3 separate regions of the Homo sapiens genome follow, and all the other regions are linked to region 1. Evidence: fine-mapped expression QTL. A gene starts in region 1. Each other region holds a variant in brackets. All regions are shown on one strand. Distances are from middle to middle. Region 1 holds the start of RTF1 (RTF1 homolog, Paf1/RNA polymerase II complex component). Region 2 holds the start of LOC105370943 (a long non-coding RNA gene). Region 3 overlaps NUSAP1 (nucleolar and spindle associated protein 1).

The links.
Region 2: its variant is fine-mapped to the expression of RTF1 in whole blood (INTERVAL, PIP 0.99).
Region 3: its variant is fine-mapped to the expression of RTF1 in whole blood (TOPMed, PIP above 0.99).

Annotation. Positions count from the first base shown.
Region 1 is chr15:41,412,257-41,422,539 of GRCh38, forward strand. RTF1 (RTF1 homolog, Paf1/RNA polymerase II complex component) reads left to right here and starts at 4,839. Exons shown (of 18, transcript NM_015138.5): 1 at 4,839-5,057. The coding sequence starts at 4,860. RefSeq lists an enhancer at 4,569-4,668 and a silencer at 4,729-5,318.
Region 2 is chr15:40,906,318-40,916,600 of GRCh38, forward strand. It overlaps LOC105370943 (a long non-coding RNA gene), which reads left to right and starts at 492. Exons shown (of 2, transcript NR_135836.1): 1 at 492-568; 2 at 2,512-3,034. RefSeq lists enhancers at 1-148, 1,338-1,467, 8,980-9,647 and silencers at 1-148, 78-417, 1,068-1,127. The variant C/T (reference allele first, on the strand shown) is at 5,512.
Region 3 is chr15:41,374,706-41,384,988 of GRCh38, forward strand. NUSAP1 (nucleolar and spindle associated protein 1) reads left to right here. Exons shown (of 11, transcript NM_016359.5): 9 at 1,007-1,123; 10 at 2,491-2,599; 11 at 5,388-6,341. The coding sequence ends at 5,481. Among named protein-coding and RNA genes, the nearest start is that of NDUFAF1, 23 kb to the right of the region's middle. RefSeq lists an enhancer at 8,854-9,392. The variant C/T (reference allele first, on the strand shown) is at 5,133.

The DNA.
Region 1 (10,283 bases):
CGAGGCAGGAGAATTTCTTGAACCTGGGAGGCAGAGGTTGTGGTGAGCCGAGATCGTGCCATTGCACTCCAGCCTGGGCAACAAGAGCAAAACTGCCTCAAAAAATAAAAAATAAAAAATAAATAAATAAATAAAAATAAATACAATAAATAAAGAGACTTTCAATACCTACAGTAAGAGGTCAAGGAAAGCTGAGCCTGAGGATAATCATCAGAGTAGCCGGAGCTCCAATAAGCTTAAACTCCCAAGCAAGGCAGTGTGCCTAAGCCAAAGGCCAGGCCCTAGTTGAGAAATAATGGGACCATGACAAATGGGATGGGGATATCTGGTTAATACCCCTAAAGAATTTGAAATCCCAGGTACTCCCGAACCCTCTGAACCTGCAGAAATGATCTTCCATCCAGCCTCCTCTCCTCCTTTTAGACACTGCAGAGGCTTGTCCCTGGCAGGACTGAAGGATTTCTCCTTCCCCTCAGAATCTGCTCTTACCCCTCTCCTGGCCACTAGACTTATATAGGGTTAAGTCACCACATAACCCAGTGGGGGACATATTGGGCCTAATAAAGGAGGAAAAGGACTATACGCCAAAAGAGCTGCAAGAACTAGCCAAGCAGGTGGTGGCAGGAGCTGGGAGAGTAGCAAACGACTGGATTCTGAGGGTGCCTGATCAAGAGGACCAAGTTGTAAGATTGGGCCGGATATGGTGGCTCATGCTATAATCTCAACACTTTTAAGAAACTGAGGCAGGAGGATCACTTGAGGATAGGAATTGGAGACCAGCTTGGGCAACATAGTGAGATCTTGTCCCTACAAAAAATAAAAATAAAAAAATTAGCAGGGTGTGTTGGCACATGCCTCTAGTCCCAGCTACTTGGCAGGCTGAGGTGGGAGGATTGCTTGAGCCCAGGAGTCTAAGGCTGCAGTGAGCCATGATCATACCACTGCACTCCAGCCTGGGTGACAGTGCAAGACTCTGTTTCAAAAAAAAAAAAAAAATTCCAAGATTAGATAATGGACAGTATTTTTTTTTTTTTTTTTTTGAGATGAGGTCTCGCTCTGTTGCCCAGGCTGGAGTGCAGTGATGTGATCTCAGCTCACTGCAACCTCCGCCTTCCAGGTGCAAGCAATTCTCCTGCCTCAGCCTCCCGAGTAGCTGGGACTACAGGTGGGTGCCACCACGCCCAGCGAATTTTTGTATTTTTAGTAGAGACGGGGTTTCACCATATCAGCCAGGCTGGTCTCGAACTCCTGACCTCAAGTGATCCACCCTCCTTGGTCTCCCAAAGTGCTAGGATTACAGGCATGAGCCACCCCGCCTGGCCTAACTTATTATTATCATTATTTTTTTAAATTTTGAGATGGAATTTCACTCTTGTTGCCCAGGCTGGAGTGCAATGGCGCGATCTCAGCTCACTCCAACTCCGCCTCCTGGGTTCAAGTGATTCTCCTGCCTCAGCCTCCCAGGTAGCTGGGATTACATGCGCCTGCCACAATGCACAGCTAATTTTTTTTTTTTTGTATTTTTAGTAGAGATGGGATTTCACCATGTCGGCCAGGCTGGTCTTGAACTCCTGACCTCAGGTAATCCGCCTGCCTCGGCCTCCCAAAGTGCTGGGATTACAGGCGTGAGCCACCACACTCGGCTTGGCCTAACTTACTATTTTTTTTGAGACGTGGTTTCTCTAAGTTGCCAAGGATGGATTCCACCTCCTGGGCTCAACCGATCCTCCTACCTTAGCCTCCCAAGTAACTGGGACCATAGACCTGTGCCTCCATGCCTGCTTTGTAAACTTAAACCTTATAAGAACCCAAAGAGACAGACACTATCATTATCCTCATTTTACTAATTGGAAACTTTGACTGGTTGGGTTCTCTGGGAAGCTGACTCAAGAGGGAGTTTAAAGCAACGTTTATTCACTAAATTTAGACATTGATTAGACTCAATACGGACTAACTTCAGTACGTGAATCATTAGAAGACCCCTTGCAGAAAGATCAAAATCTACAGATTTCACTCAAAGAACATACTTTTATTAATTCCAGTCAAGGGCCACTGACCATGTCATGGCTTCCTTTTTAGCAGTACTGTGTATTAACACATTTAAAGAGGGTCCTCCAGAAGGGCACCACAGGCTTCAGGGTGGCTAGACATACGGAAGCTGGGCTGGTGATTCGGGGTCACCTTGGCCATGGTTCCAAGGATATGTCGGGGGAGAAAAGTCTATGAGCTGTATCTTAGGAAAACTCTTCTAGGGTAAAGAGGTAGTTGGACTTTATTTAGGTTGTTTTATTTATTTATTTTTTTGAGACAGGGTCTCACTTTGTCACCCAGGCTGAAGTGCAGTGGTGCGATTATTTTCTTTTTTCCTTTTTTTTTTTTTGAGAACAGGCTCGCTATTGTTGCCCAGGCTGGAGTGCAGTGGCGCGATCTCAGCTCACTGCAACCTCCACCTCCCAGGTTCAAGCAATTCTCTGCCTCAGCCTCCCAAGTAGCTGGGAATACATGCGCCCACCACCACGTCTGACTAATTTTTGTATTTTTAGTAGAAACGGGGTTTCACTGTCTTGGCCAAGTTGGTCTTGAGCTCCTGACCTCGTGATCCACCTGCCTCAGCCTCCCAAAGTGCTGGGGTTACAGGAAAGAGCCACTGCACCCGGTCCAGATTATTATTATTATTATTATTATTATTTTTGAGAAAGAGTCACGTCTGTTGCCAGGCTGGAGTGCAGTGGTACGATTTCGTCTCACTGCAGCCTCCGCCTTCAGGTTCAAGTGATTCTCCTGCCTCAGCCTCCCAAGTAGCTGGGATTACAGGAACACGCCACTATGCCCGGCTAATTTTTGTATTTTTAGTAGAGACAGGGTTTTACCATGTTGGTCAGGCTGGTCTCGATTTCCTGACCTTGTGATCCCCCTGCCTCAGCCTCCCAAAGTTGGGATTACAGGCGTGAGCCACTGTGCCCGGCCTAATTTTTGTATTTTTAGTAGAGATGGGGTTTTGCCATGTTGGCCAGGCAGGTCTTGAACTCCTGCCCTCAGGTGATCGGCCCTCTTCAGCTTCCCAAAGTGCTGGGATTACATGTGTGAGCCACCACGCCCGGCCCCTACTTTATATTCCTAATCACTAAAGGAAATAACTTCTGGAGCTGACCTTTTTATCAGCTGACCTCAAACTTAAGTATAAAAACTTATTTCCTATACACACCAGTTCCCAAAACCTTCTTCTCTCCTCTTGTATTTCATTTTTTTGATGAAGGGCTCACCTGCCACTAGCTTCCTAAGCTAGAATCTGAACATCAATAGGTATCTGGGAGCACTCCTTCCCTTACCCCTATCCCAAATCCTGGGGATTCTACGTTCCAAATTATCCAGAGTCCATCCACTTCTTTCCATTCCCACAGCTTCGTCCTTAGGTCAGGACACCATCATCTCTTGCCAAGAAGACAACAACAATCCAAGCGATCTCCCTGCCCTTAGTCCATTCGCCATACTGCGGTCAGAGTAATCTTTGAAAAACACAAATCAGGCCTGGGTGCAGTGGCTCATGCCTATAATCCCAGCACTTTGGGAGGCTGAGGCGGGCGGATCACCGGAGGCCAGGAGTTTGAGACCAGCCTGGCCAACATGCTGAAACCCCATCTCTACTGAAAATACAAAAATTAGCAGGGCGTGGTGAAGGGCGTCTGTAATGCCATCTATTCCGGAGGTTGAGGCTGGAGAATCGCTTGAACCCAGGCGGCAGAAGTTGCAGTGAGCCAAGATCGCGCCATTGCACTCCAGCCTGGGCGACAAGAACGAAACTCCGTCTCAAAAAAAAAAAAAAAAAAAAAATTAGCCGGGCGTGGTGGCAGGAGCCTGTAATCCCAGCTACTCAGGAGGCTGAGGCAGGAGAATCGCTTGAACCTGGGAAGCGGAGTTGCAGTGAGCTGCCACTGCACTCCAGGCCGGGCAACAAGAGCGACTCCGTCTCCAAAACAAACGAACAAACAAACAAACAAACAAAAAAACACCACCACAAATCAGGCTGGGCACGGTAGCTCACGCCTGTAATCCCAGCACTTTGGGAGGCCAAGGCAGGAGGATCCCTTGGGCCCAGGGGTTCGAGACCAGCCTGGGCAATATAGGGAGGCCCCGTCTCTACTAAAACACAAAACCACACACAAATCAAATCATGTGGTTCTTCAGTTTAAAATCTTTCAATACTCAAGTTCAAACTCCCTAATTCAGCTTACTTATTAGGATCTGAGTGAGGCAGTCGCCGTGTCCTTCTCCAGCCTGGTCTGTCGCCTATCCCCACCCACAATCTCTGCTCTGGCCATAACTAACTTCAGTTCTCCGAACCTAACTTTATTATCGCCGGGCCATTTTGCCTACGCTGTTCTCTGCATGCAACACTCTACTCTCCTTTTGGGTAATTCAGATGCATTCTCCAGGTCCCAGCTCAGCTGTCATTCGCACAGCCCGGGTCGGCAGTCTCCAGCCCCCAACCGGTGTCCACCGCGTGGTCCAGGCGACTTATGTCTTCCAGGCCGTCGGCCCCTTAAGTACACGCCATCAGTGTTGGACAGCTTGAAAGTAGGTAGACACGTGAGCCCCCTCAGAGAGAACCTGGATCCTTGCGGCTCCAGCCCCCGATAGGAAGAGAGCCCACCAAACTTCGGCTCCGCAGCAGAGATACAGCCAAGGACTCCAGGGCAGTCGCGGGTAAAGCCACCACCACTCTCTGCCGGGAACCAGCGACGGGGGAAGGCCCCGCCTCTCACGCTGCGTCGGGGGCGGGGCAGGGCGGGGCACCCGGCGACCTGCGAACGGCGTGCGGCGAGCAGGGGGCGGGGCCAGGGGGGCGGAGCGGAGCGCGCATGCGCGGTCGCCTTTGTGTGGGTCGAGCAGCGGCGGCGGCGGCGGCAGTGGCGGTCCCACTGGCAGGCGGGCAAGAGGGGAGTCCGGGCGGCGGCCGGCGTGGGAGCCGGGGGACCACCATGGTAAAGAAGCGGAAAGGCCGCGTCGTGATCGACTCGGACACAGAGGACAGCGGCAGCGACGAGAACCTGGATCAGGTGAGGGCAGGCCGCGGAGGCGCGGGCCGGCGGAGCCAGAGGGCTGTCGGGGCCGCGGGAGCCGGAGACGGCCGGGCCTGGAGCCTTCCTACCAGAGCGCCCAGCTCGCCCCGTGCCCTGGGCACCACTACAGCCCCTTTCCCGTCTTCCTGGAGTGTGCGGGGCCTTGGAGACCGGCCCGGGCCTGGAGACGGAGCCCCGAGGACTTGGCGCCTTGGGCGGGGAGGCGGGGCAGGGACCGGGCCGTTGGGCCTCGGGCTCGGGGGTAGCGAAAGGGGCCGCGATCTTCCGGGGCCAGATCGGGGCGGCGGGCTGTAGTCCAGGAGATCCGGGCTGGGAGAGATAGGAAGTATCGCCCGCCAACCTGGGAGGCTGGGAGGTTTTGGAGGAGGTGCAAGGGTGCGCGTCGAGCAGTTGGGGGCGAGGGCCAAGAAGATCCGGACTCTGGAAGATGGAAGTTTTTCGGACAAGGGATGTGGACAGAGGAAGGACACTCGTAAATGTTCCTAGGAGCCTCTGCCATGCTTGCCAAGGATGACTTAGCTGTGGGCACGAGTTTATTTGGCGACTAGGGTCGTTTGTGTTTGAGAAGGGCCCTTGTTGAGGTGTCAGACCCAAAAAAACACTCTTGGGTGGAGGAAAGAGGGCAGATACTGGAAGAAATAGAGAACTATGTAGGGCGACATGGAGGGACTGTGCATAGCCCAGGCCTCCTCTTGGCCCTTTCACGCAGCATCCCAGAATTCTTTCTTACTTGAAGACTGCAGGAAGCACTGAAAGTAACTTTTGGCCTCAGTGTCTTGGGGTTGAACTGTTTATATACTCTAGAAAACATTGTAGGGAGGAATCTGCTCTTTGTAGCAGTGCTCTAGTGATACCAGGCGATACAAAGATGGTCTCCTTTCTGTTTAATGAGCAAATGATGTAAAGAAAGAATATGCAAGAGATAGTAGCTTTTGAGTAGAAAGAGTATTGAACTTGGAGTCTGAAAATTTGAATTCTAGGCTGGGCTTATGCTATTTTCTAGCTATATATCTTTGGTCTTAAATGTAAAATGAAAATGTAACATCAGCCTTGTGTATCTAATTGGTTTATTGTAAAGATCAAGTGTTTGTAAAAATTGATGGCAGTGCAAGCATTTGCTAATTGTAAAGTTTTTCTATGAATGGCTTCTTGGGGGTCTTTTATATGAAGCCAGAGGTCTCAGTTTGAAAGTATTAGGGGCTGGGCGCGGTGGCTCACGCCTGTAGTCCCAGCACTTTGGGAGGCCAAGGCTCATCTGAGGTCGGGAGTTCGAGACCAGCCTGACCAACATGGAGAAACCCCATCTCTACTAAAAATACAAAATTAGCGGGGCGTGGTGGCACATGCCTGTAATCCCAGCTACTCGGGAGGCTGAGGCAGGAGAATTCTTGAACCCGGGAGGCGGAGGTTGCAGTGAGCCTGGGCAACAAGAGCGAAACTCCATCACAAAAAAAAAAAAAAAAAGAAAAGAAAGAAAAAGAAAGTATTAAGGCATAAAAGGGGAGGACTTTTTATTTATTTATTTATTTTTTTTTGAGACGGAGTCTCGCACTGTCGCCCAGGCTGGAGTGCAGTGGTGCGATCTTGGCTTCACTGCAAGCTCCGCCAAGGGGAGGACTTTTAAGAAGAAAAGGATTGAGGAGGTGCTGTAGAAAGAAGACTGCTTTGAAAATGGTGGTAGGGAGATGGAGAAGTAATGGGGCCTGTGTAAGACTATCTAAGGAATAGAAACTTTGTTTTGGGGTAGGAATTGAAAATGTTCTCATTGAAAGGCTCCTGAAGTTTACAAAAATATCAAAAGTATAATTTCGACTGTAAAAGTTTGATTGGTAGATAATTTTAGACTGGCAATTAGAAGGAGTAGAATCTATTTTTTTCTGTCTTTTCATCTACAAATGTGAATGTTTCAGACAATAACAACATTGGCTACCATTTATATAGTGCCTAGAGTAGGCACTTTAATTGTTTTGTTTAGATTTTCAAGTTTTCACATTATGGTAAATTTGGAATTATTTCCTCTACTTTACATAAAGAAAATGGAGGTTGAAAAAGTTAAATAACTCACAACTAGTAAGTGGTAGCATTGGGATTTGAACCCAGATCTGCATGAGTACAAAGCCTATACTGTTTCCACTATACCAACTCAATCTGTTAGTTTTAAATTTTTTTCATACTGCAAAATGATAATGTTTCACAGTCATTTTTCATGGTGCTAGAGTTCGTGTTTATAAAGTACACTGGATAGTTTAGAGGAAATTGGTACATACATTAAAAGGATTATTTGGGGGGATTTCTTGGTAAAGCACTCTCAAGACATCTGTTCAAGTGATGAATGAACTGAACTGCAAATTATTGTCCTTAGTAGTTTCCCACAGAATTCTGATGAATAAAATAAGTTGAGTGCTTCTTTTCGTGGTAGAGATATTTCACCTGATCCACAAAAAGCTTTTTCAAAGTGGGAACTGCAGAGAATTGCCACTTTATTTATTTATTTATTTTTGAGACGGAGTCTTGTTCTGTTGCCTGGGCTGGAGTTCAGTGGCACAATCTCAACTCACTGCAACCTCCGCCCACTGGGTTCAAGCGATTCTCCTGCTTCAGCCTCCCGTGTAGCTGGGACTACAGGTGCCTGTCACCACACCTGGCTAATTTTTTGTATTTTTAGTGGAGACAGGGTTTCTCCATGTTGGCCAGGCTGGTTTCGAACTCCTGACCTCAAGTGATATGCCCACCTCGGCCTCCCAAAGTGCTGGGATTACAGGCATGAGCCACCGTGCTTGGCCGGAATTGCAATTTTAAATCCAATTCTAAATATCTATTTGTAAAAGGAAATTAACATAAAATGTGTAATACCTAATACATTTTAACAACAAATTTAACTTCCTCCCCTTCAGCTTCTTATTTGCATTCTTGTTATCAGATGGGAACTAGATCAAAATTCCCTTTCCCTGCACATCCTAACAGGGGTATTGATGCCTTCAGTTTGTCTGTTCAGCACTATGCCAGACTCTCAGAATAATCAAAGAGGAAGATCTCTGCCCTCTAGACATTTTCACGAAAGACCTTTAGCACAAGTTCACTGTCAGTGCTGCTTGGGGGTCTTTAGGAATCCTAATGCATTCTGGATCTTTCCTGCCCCAAATACCTTGTGCTGCTCCATCTGGTTCTGAGTCTTCACTGGGGGTATAACATTAGACTTGCTGTCTAGCGTATGGTACTTGTGGAAGGAACAAACCATGACAGATCACTGAGTATCTAGTGTGGATTGGAATGCAGTTCGTAAGGAGGCCTTTTGTCCCTGGGTTTTTCAGATGGGAATCTGAGCCATTATGTCAAAAATTTTACCTCCAATTTATTCCTTACTGAAGGTGAGATATATGGGCCTTCTAGGCTGGTTTTTCCTGGTGGTAGGGGCAGACCTCTGTGTCAGAAGCCACCTGGGTTGCTTATTTAAAATGTAGGTTGGGACTTAGAGGGTGCAGCAGTTCCCATCCTAGACCTACTGAATCAGACTCTCAGGGGATAGAGGTCTGGACTCTGCATTTGTAACAGGTATAGCTCAAGTAATTATGATTTATGTTAGTGATTAAGATCACTGCCTATATGCAGGTTAATCTTTTTAGTAACACACTATAAGTATTTAGAAGAGAAATAGCTTCCTGTGTCTGCCATAGTACTTCCAAATTAAGCGTACATGTATAGGCTGGGCATGGTGGCTCATGCCCTGTAATCTCAGCACTTTGGGAGGCCAAAGTGGGAGGAACACTTGAGCCCAGGTGTTTGAGATCAGCGTAGGCAACAAAGTGAGACCTCATCTGTACAAAGACTTTAAAAATTGGCCAGGTGCAGTGGCTCATACCTGTAATCCCAGCACTTTGGGAGGCCGAGGTGGGCGGATCACCTGAGGTTGGGAGTTTGAGACCAGCCTGACCAACATGGAGAAACCTCGTCTCTACTAAAAATACAAAATTAGCCAGGCATGGTGGTGCTTGCCTGTAATCCCAGTTACTCAGAAGGCTGAGGCAGGAGAATCACTTGAACCCAGGAGGTGGAGGCTGTGGTGAGCCGAGATCGTGCCATTGCACTCCAGCCTGGGAAACAAGAGTGAAACTCTGTATTAAAAAAAAAAAAAAAAGAATTTAAAAATTAGCTGGGCATGGTGGCGTGCCTCTAGTCTCAGCTACTTGGGAGTCTGGGGTGGGAGGATTGCTTGAGCCTGGGAGGTTGAAGTTGCAGTTACTTGTGGTCCCACCGTTTCTCTTCAGCCCAGGTAACAGAGTGAGACCCTGTCCCAAAGAAAAAAAAAAAAAAGGCACTTGTATAACTAAAAGAACTTGACAGGGAGGTTTTAAGATGGCAAAACTACTGGTTCTTTTTTTTTTTTTTTTTAGGCAGGGTTTCACTCCTGTCACCCAGGCTGGAGTGCAGTGGCACAATTACAGCTCACGGCTGTAGCGTTGACCTCCCTAGCTCAGTGATCCTTCCCCCTCAGCCTCTCAAGTAGCTGGGACTACAGGTGTGCACCACCACACCCAGCTAATTTTTAAAATCATTTGTAGAGATGGGGGTCCCACTACATTGCCTAGGCTAGTCTGAAACTCCTGGGCTTGGGTGATTCTCAGGCTTTGGCCTCCCAAAGTGCTGGAATTACAGGTGTGAGCTGCCACACCAGGCCTTATTTATTTATTTGTTTGTTTGTTTATTTATTTATTTTTGAGATGGAGTCTCACTCTATCGCCCAGACTGGAGTACAATAGCACGATCTCGACTCACTGCACCTTCCACCTCCTGGGTTCAAGCAATTCTCCTGCCTCAGCCTCCTGGGTAGCTGAGATTACAGGCGCCTGCCACCACACCTGGCTAATTTTTTGTATTTTCAGTAGAGACGCTATGTTGGCCAGACTGGTCTCTAACTCCTGGCCTCAGGTGATCCAGCACCTGGCCTTATTTTAACCTTTGAAAGTTTTTAAAACTAAGACCTAGTTTGAGAGTTTGAAAGCTTTTCTTTTAGCATTTGACCTGATAGTGACTCTGTCCTTATTTTGACCACACCCTTTCTTCAACATTTTTAAATTTCAAGATACTTGCTGTTGGTGCCTATTGGGAAATAATAATTTGAGGCAAACCTCTGGGCTCTATGTCATCTCCCTTTATGGAATAATATTTATGCAGTAAGTCCTATAAAATGAAAAGCATTCAAGA
Region 2 (10,283 bases), 510 kb before region 1:
AATGAGCTACTCCTGGAGCGGTCACTGGAAATAGAAGGAGTGGCCACAGGCAGTGACGCTGGGACCAGGGCAGGAGGCCTGTAAACAAGGAAGCCACCTGGGGGAGACGCAGGGCGGCCACTGGTCCTGGGGAGCAGGTGCTTCCTGAGGCCCGCCCTGGAGAGGGCCCTGGGGGCCGCCCCGCCGAGTCTGCAGTGGGCACTAGGGGGCGCCGTCTACCGGCTTCCCGAGCCCACCGCTCCCTACCCTGGCTCCTGGGGGTGTGGCCGCCGGAGGGTGTGCCGGCCCAGAGTCCCAGGCCCTGCCTGCCCGGCCTCTCCCTCCCTTCTCCTGTCACCGCGGCCGACTGGCCAAGGGCACCAGCCCTGGAGAGGGCACAGGGCTCAGCGTGGCCAGCTCGGATGTGAGCTCATTCCCCCGAGACCACCAGTTCTAGTTCCTGCCCCTCCCCCAAAGGCTCGGGTCGCAGGCTGGTGCCTGGCACCCACCCCAAAGGTTGGGAGGGGGCTCGAGGCCATCAGGCTCCAGGCCGCACTTGGCGCTGCCCCCTGGCGCCAGGGAAACAAAGGTTAGGGGCCCAGAGGGAGTTATCTGGCCCCACCGCCACCGGGTGGGGGAAGGGGACCAAGAGGGGGCGCAGTTCCCCTCCACTCCCCCAGCCCTACTGATTCTTCGAGACACTTTCACAGGCGGAAATTCCCAGAGGTCAGAGGAGGGAAACGGTTAATTCCTTTTATTCAATGGGTCCCCCCTACACGCCTCCCCCCAACTTCCTCCCTCCACTTCCCGCCCCCCCCTGTGTGAACAGGAAGTGGAGAGGAAAAGGCTCTGAGCGGAGCAGCTGGGAGCAGGAGGCAGGGAGTGGGCGGCGGGCTTGGTGCCAGCCCTGCCCCTCATGCTTACTTGCCGGAGGGCCAGGCCAACCGCGGCCTGGGAAAGAACCTGCAGCCCCGCTGGCGAGTGGCAGTTGAACCGGGAAACAGCAAACTCCATGCCCTCTTTCCTTAACCTGCTCCCAGGTTACAGGCTGCTGTCCTCAGGGTGCCAGACATCTTCTGCTCAAGAGCCAGCTGCCCTGGCCACCACAGCCCCACCTCCACCACCAGGCTGGGCATCCCGAGGCTGGCAGGCATCTCTTCAGGCAGCCGCCAGTCCTGGCACTGGCTCCCCCACTCAGCCCCTTGGCCCTGCCAGCCCTTTGAAGCTCATGCAGCGCTTCCTGTTTGGGGCGGGCGATGCCAGGGCCCCTCCCCCACCATTGTTCTGGAGAGACCATAGGTCCATCTGTTGCCCCATGGTGGGGCCCCTAGGCAGTGCCACACGGGAGCAGCACCACAAAGGACGCTGCTGGCAGCTTTGCTTATGTGGGGTGAGGCTGGGCCCTGCAGCAGGTTGAGGGTGAATGGTGGTCAGAGGCAGGCCTGGGGCGGGCACTGGGATAGGAGGATGCTAGAAAGTTCTGGTGCTTGGGCAGCTGGAGCCCTCAGCTTTCTCCTCCACCTGGAGCATGGAGATGATATTCAGGGAGCCATACGTGCTGAAGCCACCAGGAGAGGGCCACCATTCTCATGCCTGGATTCCCAAAAGGAAAACTGAGGCAGAGGGGCAAACTTTGGTCCAGGATGGCCAATAAAAGGGTCACAAAATAGGGTTGTCATTTCAAGGGGATTGGCCCCACTCTCTGAATGCCCAGTAATTGGGTGCTTTCCTCTCCCTGAGCAGCTTTACCGTGGCTCAGCTTTCACCTTGAACCAGCCCTTACTGAGCAGTCAGAAACCATACCGTGAGGTCAGGAGAGGCTGCGCGGCCTTAGTTTGGTGGCCAGCAACCCATGTCCACTGAGAATAAGCTTGGGCAGAGAAAAGGGAAAGGGGCACTGGTCTGGCCCCCCGGAAGGTGGCTGCTGCTTCTGGTTCCCAGGCTGCTGTGGCCAAAGGTCTGTTTGTGTTTGCCAGGTGCAGAGGCAGGTGGCTGCAGCTCACCTTCCCTCCATGGCATGATCTCCCAGCTCTGACCCTTGACCTGTTCCCTCGCGGCATCTCCACAGGGCTAGAAGGTGAACCCTACTTCCTTTACCAGGTCCTCTGGTTTCTCTTCCCAGGCCAGGACCTAAACCGTTCACAACTCCCAGCAGGCCAGAGCTGCAGAGACCTCAGATAGAGACTATAAAGTGCTGTGGAAGCCTTGTTCAAATAAAAACATTCATGAATGTCCAGTACTTGAAATTGGTATGCTGAGATTCTCCGATGGAAACTGGGCTGGAGGGACCCACACTCCTGTTCACTCAGCCTGTTCTCCACTCCTATCTCAATGTCTCTCTCTCTGTTTTTTTTTTTTTTTTTTAATAGAAACAACACCTTGTTCTATTGCCTAGGCTGGAGTGCAGTGGCGCCATCATAGCTCACTGCAGCCTTTAATTCCTGATCTCAAGTGATCCTCCCACCCCAGGCTCCTGAGTAGCAAGGACTACAGACACCACACCTGGCTAATTTTTATTTCTATTTTTTGTAGTGACGGGGGTCTTGCTAGGTTGCCAAGGCTGGTCTTGAACTCCTGACTTCAAGCAGTCCTCCCACCTCAGCCTCCTAGGGTGTCCGGATTACAGGCATGAGCCACTGTGCCCGGCCCCCTATCACGATATCCATAAGATGCCAGGATGCCCAGGAACCGAGTTTGAAAGACATTGTGCTGCTGATCCCACCTCCTGACTTTACAGCTGCTGAATTGCAGAAGACAAATTGGTAGCTAACAGGAGGCTCCATCCTGGATCCTGCCCCTGTCCGTGAGATTCAGCCTTGATTAACTGTGTTCCCATGCTGGTCGTGAGCAGGGCACCATCCTAGGTCCTTCTTTATACTCATTTTCCATCTCCAGCCAAAATGGGTTGAACCGAGGAACAAGGACATAATCTGTAAAGAGCAAGTGCAAGTCTCTGCTCTGCCATTACCAGCATCAGGCTAATCAAGCCCTTGGAAACTCAATTTCTTCTCCTGTAAAATGTGAATAACTGTTACAGACCTGGAAAGGCTCTTGTGAGGCTGAAATGAGAGCGGTGCCGCCCATCTGTCAAGGTAGCCCAGGGCCTGGCGCCCAAGCAGCCCTGGGCACTTGCCCCTCTTCCCTTTTACTCTGCACCTCCTTTCTGTAGGCGTAGGACCCTGAGACCTGTCCCAGCTCATCCCTCACAAGGCCCTCTGACTTCTTCAGATATCAGAGTGGAATTGGAAGAAAGAAGCTTGCTTGAGTAGGTTTTTCTGGTTTCTTGAACAATGGCGATTCTAAGGAAAAGAGGTTCAGGATGAGAATGAGAGGAAGCCCACAGGCATGTAGAATATGGCCACAGGTGGGACAAGAGTGCTTCCTTGGGATGGGGGTCCTGGTTCCCTGAAGGAAAGGAGACAGGGCACTACTCCAGCTCCAGGAGTCTCATAGGACAGGCCAAGAGGGCTGGGCAGACACCATGCTGGCCGCTGATCAGGCATGACTCCTCTGCCAGCCTGCCCTCGCAGGCCAGCCCAGAACTTGCACAACAGTCGGCCTGGCTGGCACTCTCCCGGGAGCTTCAGGAAGTCCCCCTTGTCCTCCCCTTGACCTTTGACCCCTTGGGCCTGCTGCCGACCAGAATACCAGGCAGATGTTCTCTCTTTTACCTTTTGTTCCTGGTCTTTCCCTCTAAGGCTGGAACTCAGAGATACCCCAAACCCCCAGCTTCCAGCTCATCCTTCCCCATGCTCTCAGTGCGGACCAGCTGGAGCCTCCACTGGGCCGCTCTCCATGTGAGCCAGTGTGGATCCTTGGCCACAGCCGGCAGGACGCTTGCAAGTGCCCCGACTCCAGACATCCTCCCAGGTGTCCTTCCCGACTAGCTCCCTGTCCCAGGCCCCAGCAGGTGAAGCAGGAACAGCAGACAGAGCCTCCTTCCCTCCCCGGCATCCTCTGAACAGTCAAAGTTGGAAGAACCCTAGATATTGTTCCACATTAAACTATGCACGCCTCGTGGCACTCAGTTTCACAATCAAATAACTCCCTCTGGTTTTCTAGTGGAATTTCTGCTTTTATTTTATAGGGTTTCTTGGCTTCTTTTTTTTTTTTTAAGCAATCAGTCTAAATTTGTCATCACACATCCCCCATTTCCGCCCCTAAGGGCCTCCTTTTCATCCCCTGGAATCTGGAAACCATATGTGTGGGCAGAAACCCCCCAGCATCCCCCACTGCACCCTGGCCCAGCCTGGCCTCCGCAGGGATAACCGTGTTAGCTGGGGAAGAGTCTACACTCCACACTGGGGCTAGAAAGGGAGTTTCTCTTTGGACCTTCCCAGCTGAAGCCATGGAGAAGCCGTGTGGTCTAGTGGTTAGGGCTAGAACAGATGGGTTCTGTTCCCGGCAATCTCTTTGACTAACACCAGAAGCCTGGGAAAGTCCCCTTAACACCTAAGGGACTCAGTTTCCCCACCATCTGAGGGGCTCAGAGTTTCACCAGCTAGCTCATCTCCTACCCGCCTTGGTGGAAAGAGTTTTTGATCTGGAATTTCTGCTATGTCACTTACAAGCTGTTTGACCTTGACAAATTGCTTAACCTTTCTGAACCTCAATTTCCTCATCTATAAATTAGAGACTATTATCGTACCTACCACCTGGCTATTGTTGGGATTAAATAAGAAAACATATTCTCAAGGGCCTCGCACCAGACGTACTGTGAGAACTCAAGAAGCAGGCGTTGTGATTGTTAATAATAAGTAGAAAGGCACAAAGAGGTGGGAGTGTGTTCTTAGCGAGTCTGCCCCGGGCCAGACCTGTCTGCCCCTGCCTCTCCTGCTCCGGCTGACTTGTCCCAACCTTCCCTGGGCCTCCTCTGCTCTGGAAGGCAAGGATGCGTTACCAGTCATTGTGGATCAAGGCTGAGGCCTGTCTGCTCGTCCCTGTCTCCATGACGACCCCAGCCCCTCCCCTCCTTCCTTCCTCAAGAGCTTTCTGTTTACTGTAAACAGCTGCCCCAGCTCAGCCCTAGCTGATCCCCCCCACACCCAGGGCCAGCCAGACCCTCTTTGAACCCGGCCTGGACTGGTGTGAAGGTCTGCTCACTGCTTCTCGGGCTCCACAAGGCCTCAAACAAACTCTGTGTTTCCACCTTGCCTGGCCGGGAGGGGAGAGGAGGAGGGGAGGGAACTGTTACCTCAGACCAGGGCAGCCAGGGCCTCAGAGACAAGGAACAGATGGGGCGTAATGGAGGAGGACCACACCAAGAGAGTTGGGTGGAGACATCTCTGGCTTGGCCTTAGACTGACCGGGTTCAAATCCTGGCCTAGATTTGCTCACCGCATGACCTCAGGCTGGTCACTTAACTTCTCTAAGCTTCATTCAATTTATCGATTTATAAAATGGAGATAATAATACCTCCCTCAGAGGGTTGGCTGCTGGGCAGATTGGTAATAATGCATGTAAAACCCCTGGCTCAGGTCTTGACACATTGCTAGCCTACAATGGTGGTGGCTGGACTATTATTTCACTTTT[C/T]AGGTCCTCTCCTTCTGCTCAGCAACCTTGCATAAATTCCTGCCTGTTCCTTGACCTGGCATGTCTCAATCACACAGGCCTGCACATACATGTGTACTCAGCAAACATATGAGCTGGGTAATGAAATGAAAATTCACAAGCGTATCTGAGGCACAGGAGACTCAATAAGAGCAGAGGAAAAGTCTGTTTCCTAAGCCCTTCCACAGGCCTGAGCTGGGACGTCCATGTGTGCCACCATCACCAGGGCACTATGGCTTCCTCCCTCTTCCTCCATTTGGCCTCCAGGATTGCACCCACCCTCCCTGCCCAGCGGAGCGCAGTGCAGGGATAGAGGGAATGCTGTATGGGATAGCTCCCCTTTCCTGTGGGCCAAGCTTTCAGGGCAAGATGGTCTGGGATGTGGGGCTTCTGGCTCCCAGCTCCTGATGGGTCCAACTTGGCTCCCTTGACTCTCCAGCATCCTTGGAAGTGCTGGCTAATTAATGCTGCCTTGTGAGATGAGATTTAGACCTGCCATTTCGCTTACCACCAGGCCCGCCCAGCAGCCCTGGGGCAGAACCTGGGGTTAAGCAGGGGCATTCATCAATTTGAGTCATTCCCCACAAGCCCATGAGTAAGTATGGTGCTGGATTTCCAGACCCCTGTCCCCTCCCTGAGATGCCTGTTGGGGTCTTCCAGGGCTGGGTCTCTGTTGGTTGCAGGTACAGCCCTGGGGTTCTCTTGAGCAGGGCGTGGCAGCTGCAGGCTTTCAGGCCTAGCTAACTCCACTGCCCCCACATGCTCTTGCCCACAACCAGGTCTAACTCCAGCGTTTGTGTGCTCACCCCAGCCTGGCTGCATGAGAAAGGAGAGGAGCCCCCAGTACTGAAGTCAGCCCCACGGGTTGGGCTGGAAATCCCCCACTTCTTACCTTGGCTGCTTGAGGAAACAGCCTCCCGGCAGAGGGCCGCCTCCCGCCAGGGACTTTTCTCCTGGGGATGACATGGAATGCAGGGCAGCTACAAGGACCCTAGCCTCACTGAGCCACACATCAGCCAGCCTGAGGGGCAGGGGAGTGTGTCGGTCACCCAGGACCACTCTCTCCCTTGCAGGGAGCTTGGCAGCTAGGGTCCTAGAACCCCTGAGACTTACGCAGGCCTAAAGGGGGAACAGGGAGAAGGAGGCCGTGGGGACCAGTGGTGGCCAGGAATATCCAGACTGCTGCGTGGTCCTGTACCTGGAGCGCACCAGCCCCTCCTCCACACTCCCTTCCCCTACCCCAGCACCCAGCCTGAAACTGGCTTCCAATAGGATGTAAAGCCCTCACTGATCTTCCAGGATGGTGGTCTCCAGACTTTTTTTTTTTTTTTAAACAGATGGGGGTCTCACTATGTTGCCCAGGCTGGTCTTGAACTTGGGGCCTCAAGAGATTCTCCTGCCTTGGCCTCCCAAATTGCTGAGATTACAGGCGCGAGCCACTGTGTCTGGCCTCCCAAACTTTTTTGATTGTGAATATTTATGCATAGATTATACACTACAGTCAAAACACATATTAAATATTATTTATTTTAAAACATTATTTATTATTAAATATTTTATTTATTTATATATTTTTTGGAGATGGAATTTTGCTCTTGTTGCCCAGGCTGGAGTGCAGTGGGGCAGTCTCAGCTCACTGCAACCTCCGCCTCCCAGGTTCAAGCGTTTCTCCTGCCTCAGCCTCCCGAGTAGCTGAGATTACAGGCGCCCGCCACCACACCCAGCTAATTTTTTGTATTTTTAGTAGAGACTGGGTTTCACCATGTTGGCCAGGCTGGGCAGGCTGGTCTCAAACTTCTGAACTCAGGTGTTCCACCTGCCTCAGCCTCCCAAATTGTTTTTTAATTAAAAAATAAATCAAAATAGAAATCATATTTCCTCCCATCCCCCCAACAAATGCCTCACTGGCCCCATATAGGCCACTGTGGAGCCCACTGTGTAGATAGAGGAAGGCAGGAGAGCCTCTCGGAGCAGACCATCACCCTACAAGAGGATCCAGGGCCTGAGGGGGCAAATGATTTTCTTAATCCATTGCCAACCACAATCGAGTAACCCACATCTGAAGCCGTTCTATTTGTTGTTGTTAACTTGAAAAGAAACTTGGTCATCTTAGGCAAGGCCCTGTTGCTGTGGTGGTTGTGCTGCCAGTTCCTACCCCAAAGGCCCAGGCAGCCTGTCCCATCCTAGGACCGCAGCACCCAACGTAGAAAGTGAGAGTTTATCGAGGAAGAACACCCAGCCTGTGTGTGTGTGTGTGAGTGTGTGTGCGTGTGTGTGTGACTGTGAGTGTGCGACTGTGTGTGCGACTGTGTGTGTGTGACTGTGTGTGACTGTGTGTGTGTGTGCGCGACTGTGTGAGTGTGACTGTGTGTGAGTGTACGACTGTGTGTGACTGCGTGAGTGTGTGTGTGTGACTGTGAGTGTGTGTGACTGTGTGAGTGTGTGTGCGACTGTGAGTGTGTGACTGTGTGTGACTGAGTGTGACTGTGTGTGTGTGTGAGAGTGTGTGTGAGAGAGAGTGTGTGTGTGCACATGTGTATGTGTGCATGCACGTGCTGGCCCAGAGTGTGTCATTCTAACAGAACCTGCCCGGTGATGGCCTCTGCTTTCTGGTCTGCTCGTCTTGGAGGCCCCACTTGTGTCACATAGGTACTGAGACACCTGCATTAACCCTTCTGACGGAGTCATAAGAACCCCTGACATTGAATTAGAATCTTTCTCTCGTCTACATCCTCACCACATGGCTGTTTAGGTAGGTGAGGCAGGCATCAATTTGTCCATGGTGGCGGGCAGGGGGCGCCCACGGCACAGAGAGGTTTGGGGAATTGCCCAAAGTCACACCATCTAGTGGAGCTGGGTCTCGCGTGTGCTCCCACCCTTCCTAGGTGTCTTTACTCATGTTCTGCCATCCTGGTCCCACAGGGCTGCTTGACCGTTCAGAATTCTGGCCTGGGAAGAATCAGTTCCCAAGGGCCATGGGACCTCTCTCCTGCAGCTGGGGGGCAGCCTGCCCTTCCTGCCCCACTAGAGAGAAGGCAAGCCCAGGACCCTCTCCCTATCCTTGGACATGTGGGCCCGTGGATAACAATCTTCGCAGGAGCAGGGTCCCTGACGGTAGAGGAGAGAGGCCTGACTTTCCTGCCAAGGCCAGAGTTGCCCCTGGCTCCAGCTCGCCTGGCTGGATCTGGGTCCAGGGCTTCCTCCTTCATTCAAAAGCTCGGCCCTCTGAGGGTGGCAGTGGGGGAGGGGGAAGGGCTCAACCTCCAGCCCCCTCCCCCCATCACTGACAGCTGTAATCTGCTTGGGAAAATCTCTTTTTTTTTTTTTTTCTGCACAGGAAAAAATATTAGTTGTCCCGATAACAAGGAAAACAAAATCTAGCGCAGGGCATCAGAGACTTCCTGAGGCGGGAAACAATGTCCAGTGGAGAGATCAGTGGAGACGGCCCAAGCTGGGAGGCTGAGGGGGAGCTGAGAGAGGACTCTGGTCCAGTCCTATCCGGCCAGGGGGGAAGGGGATGACAGATCGAGGAACTTGGAAAAAAGATTTCCCCCCAAAACCTTGAAGTCTGGGCTGTTGAGCTATATCCGGGAAATGATTCAGGACCAGAGCACGTCCCTGCCTGGGGCCAGGCCCCATTGGCTCAGGTGCTCCGGGTCTACCTTTTTTCCCTCCCAGTCCCCTGCCTGCTCTCCCAGGTGCTACCCCAGGCCTGGGGGCCTGGAGAGTGAGACAGTAGGGTCCCTTCGGAGGTGGTGGATGAGGCCACGGGTGCCCCATAGGCAACCCCCGCCCCCTGCCCCTGGGGCATCTTGCCTTATCTGCCCACAGCTGCTTCCCTGAGGAACTTTCCACTAAGGGAGGGGGGTCAAGAAGAGGAGGACCTCTCCAAAGGCCCAGAGACTCTGGTCCCCTCCACCTCTACCAGGAGACTGTGGCAGTGGGCAGCGGCTCCAGGAGCTTGCACTGGGGGGGCTTATGATGGAGGGGCTCCAATCCCAGCTGCCTAGTCGTGGGTGCCGGGACACTGGGCTGTTGGGTCCAGTGGGCGTGGCCTCTGAGCACTGTGGGCCTCAGCGAAGGGACAGGAGGAGGAACAGGAGGCCCTGTGCTTCCAGATAGCAGTATCCCTCAACCCTGGCTGCACACTGCGTCACTGGGGAGCTTTTGGAAAATACCAGTGCCTCCAAGGCCTCATCTCAGAACAGTTCTATCAGGGTGCCCACAGGAGCTGCTCAGGTGATCCTTGTGCATGGCCAGGGCGGGCGGAGAACTCCTGCTCCATGGCCCTGTAACCCTTCAGTCACTTTCTGGCTGGCCCCCTCCACCTCTGCCAGCAGAACTGGCCCCTCCATTTCAGATTGGAGCCCCTCAGAGATGCCCACCTAGCCGGTGGCTGCCCGAGGTGCCCACAGAGTTCCCTGACCCAGCTGGAGGCCAGTTGCCCAACCCAATAGCAGGTTCTGGGTTACCCCCGCTCCCTCCTTCTGCTCCTTCTCTTTCCCCCTGGGCAGTGATGCTGGGGCCTTTGTTCTCGGCCAACAGGAGTGTGACCAGAAACCTACCCGCAGTTTAATTACAGTCCCACTCAGTGGCCATAGGCTGGCCACCGTCCTCACTCAGCCTGTAGCTAGGCCAGCCCGGCGCAGCTCCTCCCCACATCCCAGGGTCATGCCAGCTTTGTTCTCAGGAGGACCTGGTACTCCTTCCCTCACAGTGCCCTCAGCCCTTGCTCTGCACAAGGCCCTTGGGGA
Region 3 (10,283 bases), 38 kb before region 1:
TAGTAGACACGGAGTTTCACTATGTTGGCCAGGATGGTCTCGCTCTCTTGACCTCATGATCCACCTGCCTCGGCCTCCCAAAGTGCTGGGATTACAGTCGTGAGCCACTGCACCCAGCTTCTTTTTTTTCTTTGTTTGTTTCTTTTGTTTTTTTGAGATGGAGTCCCACCCTGTTGCCCAGGCTGGAGTGCAATGGCGCAATCTTGGCTCACTGCAAGCTCCACCTCCCGGGTTCAAGTGATTCTCCTACCTCAGCCTCCCGAGTAGCTGGGATTACAGGCACGTGCCACCACACCTAGCTAATTTTTTTTTTTTCCCTCTCTGAGATGGAGTCTTGCTCTGTCACCAGGCTGGAGTGCAGTGGCACGATGTTGGCTCACTGCAACCTCTGCTTCCCGGATTTAAGCAATTCCCCTGCCTCAGCCTACTCGGCATGGGACTACAGGCATGCACCACCACGCCCAGCTAATTTTTTTTTTTTTTTTTTTTTAAACCAAGTTTCGCTCTTGTTGCCCAAGCTGGAGTGCAATGGCGCAATCTCAGCTCACCACAACCTCCGCCTTCCGGGTTCAAGCAATTCTCCTGCCTCAGCCTCCCGAGTAGCTGGGATTACAGGCATGTGCCACCACCCTGGCTAATTTTGTATTTTTAGTAGAGATGGGGTTTCTCCGTGTTGGTCAGGCTGGTCTTGAACTCCTGACCTCAGGTGATCCACCCGACTCGGCCTCTCAAAGTGCTGAGATTACAGGTGTGAGCCACCACACCTCTAGATAATTTTTTGTATTTTTGTGGAGACAGGGTTTCACCATGTTGGTCAGGATGGTCTTGATCTCCTGACCTCGTGATCCGCCCACCTCGGCCTCCCAAAGTGCTGGGATTACAGGTGTGGGCCACCATGCCCAGCCTATAACGTGTATTTTTAAGATTGAGAAGTAACACTTTGATAAACACTTTACCAGGTCTTTGTTTCTAATTAAGCTCTTGGGTTTTTTCGGTGTGTTTTTAGTTATTACCCCATTCAAGTTGACAACTGAGGCAACGCAGACTCCAGTCTCCAATAAGAAACCAGTGTTTGATCTTAAAGCAAGTTTGTCTCGTCCCCTCAACTATGAACCACACAAAGGTATGTGGGAGTGTTTTGAGCTACAGGGCCTGTAAAATACTTAAGATTGGTGGGACGCAGTGGCTCACACCTACTAAACATACAAAAATTAGCCAGGCGTGGTGGCAGGCACCTGTAATCCCAGATACTTAGGATGCTGAGACAGGAGAATCACTTGAACCTGTTAGGTGGAGGTTGCAGTGAGCCGAGACCGTGCCACTGCACTCCAGCCTGGGCAACAAGAGTGAAACTCCATCTAAAAAATAAAAATAAAAAATAAAAACTTAAGAATAAACAAATTCTGCGGCCGGGCGCAGTGGCTCTGGCCTGTAATCCCAGCACTTTTGGGAGGCTGAGGTGGGCAGATCACTTGAGGTCAGGAGTTCGAGATCAGCCTGGCCAACATGGTGAAACCCCGTCTCTTCTGAAAAAAAATAAGAAAATTAGCCTGGCGTGGTGGCGGCGCCTGTAATCCCAGCTACTTGGGAGGCTGAGGCAGGACAATCGCTTGAACCTAGGAGGCAGAGGTTGCAGTGAGCCGAGATTGCACCACTACACTCCAGCCTGGGTGACATAGTGAGACCACGCCTCAAAAACAGGCTGGGCGCGGTGGCTCACGCCTGTAATCCCAGCACTTTGGGAGGCCAAGGCAGGCGGATCATGAGTTCAGGAGATCGAGACCATCCTGGCTAACACATTGAAACCCCGTCTCTACCAAAAATACAAAAACAAAATTAGCTGGGCATGGTGGCGGGCGCCTGTAGTCTCAACTACTCGGGAGGCTGAGGTGGGAGAATGGTGTGAACCCAGGAGGTGAAGCTTGCAGTGAGCCGAGACCACACCACTGCACTCCAGCCTGGGCGACAGAACGAGACTCTGTCTAAAAAATTTAAAAAATAATAATAATTAAATTTAAATTAAAAAAAAAAGCAACACATAAACTTCAAGAAATTTGGTCCCAGTTCTTTTTGTAAAATTGCAAATTGGTTGGACACAGTGGCTCATGCCTGTAATCCCAGCACTTTGGGAGGCCAAGGCAGGCAGATTGCTTGAGAACAGGAGCTCAAGACCAGCATGGGCAACATGATGAAACCCCGTCTCTACTAAAAAATACAAAAATTACCCGGGCATGGTGGCATGTGCATGTAGTCCCAGCTACTCATGAGTCTAAATTGGGAGGATCACTTGAGCCCAGGAGGCGGAGGTTGCTGTGAGCTGAGATCAGATCACACCACTGCACTCCAAACTGAGCGACAGAGTGAGATTCTGTCTCAAAGAAAAAAAAAGTATAAATGTTGATAGCAGGTAACCCCACAGATGAAGAGAATGAAGTTGGGAATATAAATCAAACAATCTTTTTAAAATTCTTTGTCTCTGTCCTAAACTAGGAAAGCTAAAACCATGGGGGCAATCTAAAGAAAATAATTATCTAAATCAACATGTCAACAGAATTAACTTCTACAAGAAAACTTACAAACAACCCCATCTCCAGACAAAGTAAGTACATAATTATCCAGCTTTATAATTATTTTAATTTCAAAAGCAGCACCTCTGAGGGATAGGGGCTCAGTAATAGTGGTGTTTTAAGAGGAGGTTAGAAGTGGTATTATGGCCGTGTGCGGTGGCTCACGCCTGTAATCCCAGCACTTTGGGAGGCCGAGGTGGGCGGAACACGAGGTCAGGAGATCGAAACCATCCTGGCTAACACGGTGAAACCCCGTCTCTACTAAAAATACAAAAAATTAGCTGGGCATGGTGGCGGGCGCCTGTAGTTCCAGCTACTCGGGAGGCTGAGGCAGGAGAATGGCGTGAACCCAGGAGGCAGAGCTTGCAGTGAGCCGAGATCGCGCCACTGCACTCTAGCCTGCGTGACAGAGCCAGGCGCCGTCTCAAAAAAAAAAAAAGTGGTATCATGGGCCAGGCACGGTGGCTCACGCCTGTAATCCCAGCACTTTGGGAGGCCGAGGGGGGCAGATCACGAGGTCAGATCGAGACCATCCTGGCTAACGCATTGAAACCCCATCTCTACTAAAAATACAAAAAATTAGCCGGGCGTGGTGGCGGGCGCCTGTAGTCCCAGCTACTCGGGAGACTGAGGCAGGAACCTGGGAGGCAGAGCTTACAGTGAGCCGAGATCACGCCACTGCACTCCAGCCTGGGCGACAGAGTGAGACTCCGTCTCAAAAAAAAAAAAAAGTGGTATCGTGTATATAACTTTCTGAGTACATCTGCCTAGGTTCCAGTGTAATGGACTCCAAATCAGCAGATTTGGGGTGAGGCCCAAGCACCTGCATTGTTTCCAAGGCTCTGCAGGTGATTCAGAAGAAGACCCAGATTCAGAGCACTGCTCTTGCATGACTCATCTGCCTAAACACAGGGCATGTGGGTATCTCTCCAGATACCAATGCCCAGCAGCCCAGGGCACCTACATATCCAGATAGACATAAATTCCTCACTCCTAAGAAAACCAGGCTTACAAGGCGTCAAGGCCCTATAAAGAGGAAAAACCCAGGACGGTCCTTAGAGGCTTCCTTCAGCATGAAAACCAAGTTAAAGCCAGAGCTCATCCTGGGTTGCAGCAAGTCATGGTTGGGCCCAGATTCCCTGCTTGGACCCTCGTGACACAGGGTTACCTGTCAGTTGACTCATGGCTATACACGACTGCCACCAGGGCCTTTGCTCACCGTTATTAAGTTGGCCAGGCAAGGTGGCTCACGCCTGTAATCCCAGTACTCTGGGAGGCCAAGGCGGGTGGATCACGATGTCAGGAGTTGAAGACATGGAGAAACCCCATCTCTACTAAAAATACAAAATTAGCCGGGCGTGGTGGCACATACCTGTAATCCCAGCTACTCGGGAGGCTGAGGCAGCAGAATCACTTGAACCCGGGAGGCGGAGGTTGTGGCGAGCTGAAATTGCACCATTGCACTACAGCCTGGGCAACAAGAGCAAAACTCCGTCTCAAAAAAGAAAAAAGAAATCAAAGTCAAAGGTCAAGCTCAAAATCACATAGTTTAGTGAAAGGAATAGAACTAGAACCAGGATCTACTGAGTTAGCCATTATGCTCTACTTTCAGAGGATTAGACAAACCAAAAAAAAAAAAGAAAAAGCCCAAGATTATATTAACTTATCTTGGTTTTTTTTTTTTTTTTTTTTTTTTTTTGAGATGGAGTCTCGCTCTGATGCCCAGGCTAGAGTGTGGTGGTGCGATCTTGGCTCACTGCAACCTCTGCCTCCCAGGTTCAAGTGATACTGCTGCCTCAGCCTCCCGAGTAGCTGGGATTACAGGTTCCCGCCCCCGCGTGCAGCTAATTTTTGTATTTTTAGTAGAGACGGGGTTTTACCATCTTGGCCAAGCTGGTCTCAAACTGCTGATCTCAGGTGATCCACCCACCTTGGCCTCCCAAAGTGCTGGGATTACAGGCGTGAGCTACCACACCTGGTCAACTTTGATTTCTAGGTGTAGACATTTCTCATTTAAAACAAATTTTTTTTTTTTTCTTAGAGACAGGGTCTTACTTTTTGTCACCCAGACTGGAGTACAATGGCATGATCATAGCTTACTTTGGCCTTGAACTCCTGGGCACAAGGGATCCTCCCACCTTGGCCTCCCAAAATGCTGGGATTATAGGTGTGAGCCACTGCATCTGGCCTAAAGCAAACTGTAAAATAACAAGAGTTGGATTCAATCAGCAAGGTGTCTCCTGACTCCAATTCCATGCATGATTTTATTATTTATTTTTGTTTGTTTGTTTTGAGACAGTCTCATTCTGTCGCCCAGTCTGGAGTGCAGTGGCGTGATCTCGGCTCACTGCAACCTCCGCCTCCCGGGTTCAAGGGATTCTCCTGCCTCAGCCTCCCCAGTAGCTGTGATTATAGGCATGCACCACCACACCTGGCTACCTTTTTTGTATTTTTAGTAGAGACGGGGTTTCACCATTTTGGCCAGGCTGGTCTCGAACTCCTGACCTCAAGTGATCTGCCTGCCTTGGCCTCCTAACGTGCTGGGATTTCAGGCATGAGCCATCG[C/T]GCCCCGGCCTCCATGCATGATTTTAGAGTGCTGAGTTAACAAAAGGAAAATACCAGTTTCTAACCCTTTAACACAACAATGACGAACAGGTGTTAGAAACACTAGGCAGAGCACAGTGCCCTCTAAGAGTCTGTTTTACACAAGTATGCTGGATGTCATTGCTTGGAAGTTTGGGTGTTAGTCCAACAATAGTTGCTTTAAAGTATCTGTTTTGGAGCCTCCCTAGAGCTTAATGTGTGACCTATCCCTCTCAGGGAAGAGCAACGGAAGAAACGCGAGCAAGAACGAAAGGAGAAGAAAGCAAAGGTTTTGGGAATGCGAAGGGGCCTCATTTTGGCTGAAGATTAATAATTTTTTAACATCTTGTAAATATTCCTGTATTCTCAACTTTTTTCCTTTTGTAAATTTTTTTTTTTTGCTGTCATCCCCACTTTAGTCACGAGATCTTTTTCTGCTAACTGTTCATAGTCTGTGTAGTGTCCATGGGTTCTTCATGTGCTATGATCTCTGAAAAGACGTTATCACCTTAAAGCTCAAATTCTTTGGGATGGTTTTTACTTAAGTCCATTAACAATTCAGGTTTCTAACGAGACCCATCCTAAAATTCTGTTTCTAGATTTTTAATGTCAAGTTCCCAAGTTCCCCCTGCTGGTTCTAATATTAACAGAACTGCAGTCTTCTGCTAGCCAATAGCATTTACCTGATGGCAGCTAGTTATGCAAGCTTCAGGAGAATTTGAACAATAACAAGAATAGGGTAAGCTGGGATAGAAAGGCCACCTCTTCACTCTCTATAGAATATAGTAACCTTTATGAAACGGGGCCATATAGTTTGGTTATGACATCAATATTTTACCTAGGTGAAATTGTTTAGGCTTATGTACCTTCGTTCAAATATCCTCATGTAATTGCCATCTGTCACTCACTATATTCACAAAAATAAAACTCTACAACTCATTCTAACATTGCTTACTTAAAAGCTACATAGCCCTATCGAAATGCGAGGATTAATGCTTTAATGCTTTTAGAGACAGGGTCTCACTGTGTTGCCCAGGCTGGTCTCAAACTCCACCAAATGTACTTCTTATTCATTTTATGGAAAAGACTAGGCTTTGCTTAGTATCATGTCCATGTTTCCTTCACCTCAGTGGAGCTTCTGAGTTTTATACTGCTCAAGATCGTCATAAATAAAATTTTTTCTCATTGTCATAGATTCATTCTTTGTAAACATAAGTCTTCCAAGATTTAGGTGAGCAGCTAGGCTTAACAAGAGTTTATACATACCCTTGGTATGCCCTTTCCTGACCACTGCTTCCATTCAAAAAAGAAACGGCAGTATGCTTCCTTTATATTCCCAGAGTACCTCTCAGGTTTTATTAAATGCTGTTTTGTATATACGAGGCTTTAGGACATGGCACACTTCCGGGTACTGGAAACATTCAGATTTTCCTATCAAGGGGAAGAGATCAGATCAATTTTAAAAATTCAGGGTCAAATACACATCTGATGGAAATGTAAAATGTCACAACCACTTTGGAAAACAGTTTGCTAGTTTCTTTGAAAAGTTAACAGTATGTCTACCGTGTAATCTAGCCATGCCATTAGGTAGTGAGACCCTATCTGAAAAAAGAAAAAACCACCAGGATCTTACATAGAGAAAATCCTAAGGATTTCACTAAAAAGCTCCTAGAACTAATAAATTCAGTAAGGTTGCAACGTACAAGATCAATACCCAACAATTATGGCCAGACACAGTGGCTCACACCTGTAATCCCAGCACTTTGGGAGGCCAAGGCAGGCAGATCACTTGAAGTCAGGAGTTGGAGACCAGCCTGGCCAACGTGGTAAAACCACATCTCTACTAAAAATACAAAAATTAGCCAGGCATGGAGGCGGGCGCCTGTAATCCCAGCTACTCAGGAGGCTGAGGCAGGAGAATCACTTCAACCCGGGAGGCGGAGGTTGCAATGAGCCAAGATCATGCCACTGCACTCCAGCCAGGGCAACAGAGTGAGACTCCGTCTTGGAAAAAAAAAAAGATCAAGGCCGCCGCGCCGGCGAGCGCCGCCCGGGAGGCAGCGGCTGGAGGAGCGGACGGGCCCCGCGGGGCCCGAGGGCAAGGAGCAGCCGCCTGCCTTGGCCTCCCAAAGTGCCGAGATTGCAGCCTCTGCCCGGCTGCCACCCCGTCTGGGAAGTGAGGAGTGTCTCTGCCTGGCCGCCCATCGTCTGGGATGTGAGGAGCCCCTCTGCCTGGCTGCCCAGTCTGGAAAGTGAGGAGCGTCTCCGCCCGGCCGCCATCCCATCTAGGAAGTGAGGAGCGCCTCTTCCCAGCCGCCATCACATCTAGGAGTGGGGAGCGTCTCTGCCCGGCCGCCCATCGTCTGAGATGTGGGGAGCGCCTCTGCCCCGCCGCCCCATCTGGGATGTGAGGAGCGCCTCTGCCCGGCCGAGACCCCGTCTGGGAGGTGAGGAGCGTCTCTGCCCGGCCGCCCCGTCTGAGAAGTGAGGAGACCCTCTGCCTGGCAACCACCCCGTCTGAGAAGTGAGGAGCCCCTCCGCCCGGCAGCTGCCCCGTCTGAGAAGTGAGGAGCCTCTCCGCCCGGCAGCCACCCCATCTGGGAAGTGAGGAGCGTCTCCGCCCGGCAGCCACCCCGTCCGGGAGGGAGGTGGGGGGGGTCAGCCCCCCGCCCGGCCAGCCGCCCCATCCGGGAGGGAGGTGGGGGGTCAGCCCCCCCGCCCGGCCAGCCGTGCCATCCGGGAGGGAGGTGGGGGGGTCAGCCCCCCGCCTGGCCAGCCGTGCCGTCCGGGAGGGAGGTGGGGGGGTCAGCCCCCCGCCCGGCCAGCCGCCCCGTCCGGGAGGTGAGGGGCGCCTCTGCCCGGCCGCCCCTACTGGGAAGTGAGGAGCCCCTCAGCCCGGCCAGCCACCCCGTCGGGGAGGGAGATGGGGGGGTCAGCCCCCCCACCCGGCCAGCCGCCCCGTCCGGGAGGGAGGTAGGGGGGTCAGCCCCCCGCCTGGCCAGCCGCCCCGTCCGGGAGGGAGGTGGGGGGGTCAGCCCTCTGCCCGGCCAGCCGCCCCGTCTGGGAGGTGAGGGGCGCCTCTGCCCAGCCGCCCCTACTGGGAAGTGAGGAGCCCCTCTGCCCGGCCAGCCGCCCCGTCCGGGAGGGAGGTGGGGGGGTCAGCCCTCCGCCCAGCCAGCCGCCCCGTCTGGGAGGTGAGGGGCGCCTCTGCCCGGCCGCCCCTACTGGGAAGTGAGGAGCCCCTCTGCCCGGCCAGCCGCCCCGTCCGGGAGGGAGGTGGGGGGGTCGGCCCCCCGCCCGGCCAGCCGCCCCGTCCGGGAGGGAGGTGGGGGGGTCGGCCCCCCGCCCGGCCAGCCGCCCCGTCCGGGAGGGAGGTGGGGGGGTCGGCCCCCCTGCCCGGCCAGCCGCCCCGTCCGGGAGGTGAGGGGCGCCTCTGCCCGGCTGCCCCTACTGGGAAGTGAGGAGCCCCTCTGCCCGGCCAGCCGCCCCGTCCGGGAGGGAGGTGGGGGTGTCAGCCCCCCGCCCGGCCAGCCGCCCCGTCCGGGAGGGAGGTGGGGGGGGTCAGCCCCCCTGCCCGGCCAGCCGCCCCGTCCGGGAGGTGAGGGGCGCCTCTGCCCGGCCGCGCCTACTGGGAAGTGAGGAGCCCCTCTGCCCGGCCACCACCCCGTCTGGGAGGTGTGCCCAACAGCTCATTGAGAACGGGCCAGGATGACAATGGCGGCTTTGTGGAATAGAAAGGCGGGAAAGGTGGGGAAAAGATTGAGAAATCGGATGGTTGCCGTGTCTGTGTAGAAAGAAGTAGACATGGGAGACTTTTCATTTTGTTCTGCACTAAGAAAAATTCCTCTGCCTTGGGATCCTGTTGATCTGTGACCTTACCCCCAACCCTGTGCTCTCTGAAACATGTGCTGTGTCCACTCAGGGTTAAATGGATTAAGGGCGGTGCAAGATGTGCTTTGTTAAACAGATGCTTGAAGGCAGCATGCTCGTTAAGAGTCATCACCACTCCCTAATCTCAAGTAATCAGGGACACAAACACTGCGGAAGGCCGCAGGGTCCTCTGCCTAGGAAAACCAGAGACCTTTGTTCACTTGTTTATCTGCTGACCTTCCCTCCACTATTGTCCCATGACCCTGCCAAATCCCCCTCTGTGAGAAACACCCAAGAATTATCAATAAAAAAATAAATTAAAAAAAAAAAAAAAAAAAAGATCAAGACCCAACAATTATATTTTTGGCTTTTTTTTTTTTTTTTTTTTTTTTTTTGAGGCAGAGTCTGTCTCTGTCACCCAGGCTGGAGTACAGTGGTGCGATCTTGGCTCACTGCAACCTCCACCTCTCCTCGAGTTCAAGCGATACTCTCTATCTCTTGACCTCGTGATGCGCCAGCCTCAGCCTCCCAAAGTGCTGGGGATCACAGCGGTGAGCCACCGCCCGTGGCCTAATTATTGTGTTTTTTTTTAGAGAGACACGGTGTTGGTCTGTCACCCAGGCTGGTGTGCAGTGGTAAGATTATAGCTCACTATAACCTTGACCTCATGGGCTCAAGGGATCCTCCTACTGCAGCCTCCCAAGTAGCTAAGTCTACAGGTGTGTGCTACCACACCTGGCTAATTTATTTTATTTTAGTTTTAGAGACAGGGTCTCACTATGTTGCCCAGGCTGGTCTCAGACTCCTGGGCAAGGGATCCTCCCATCTCAGCCTCCCAAGTAGCTAAGTCTACAGGTGTGTGCTACCACACCTGGCTAATTTATTTTATTTTAGTTTTAGAGACAGGGTCTCACTATGTTGCCCAGGCTGGTCTCAAACTCCTGGGCAAGGGATCCTCCTACCTCAGCCTCCCAAAGTGCTGGGATTATAAGTGTGAACCACTGAGCCTGGCCCCCATATTTCCATATACTAGCAATGACTAATAAAAAAAAGAGACAACTGGATACTCAGATGCAAAAAATGAATTTGGACCTTTATACCATACACAAAAGTTAACTTAAAATTGGTCATAGGGCTGAGCACAGTAGCATATACTACCGTAGTCTCAGATACTTGAGAGGCTGAAGTCAGACGATCACTTTAGCCCAGGAGATCAAAGGCTGTGGTGCATTATAAGCACTCCTGTGAATAGCCCCTGTACTT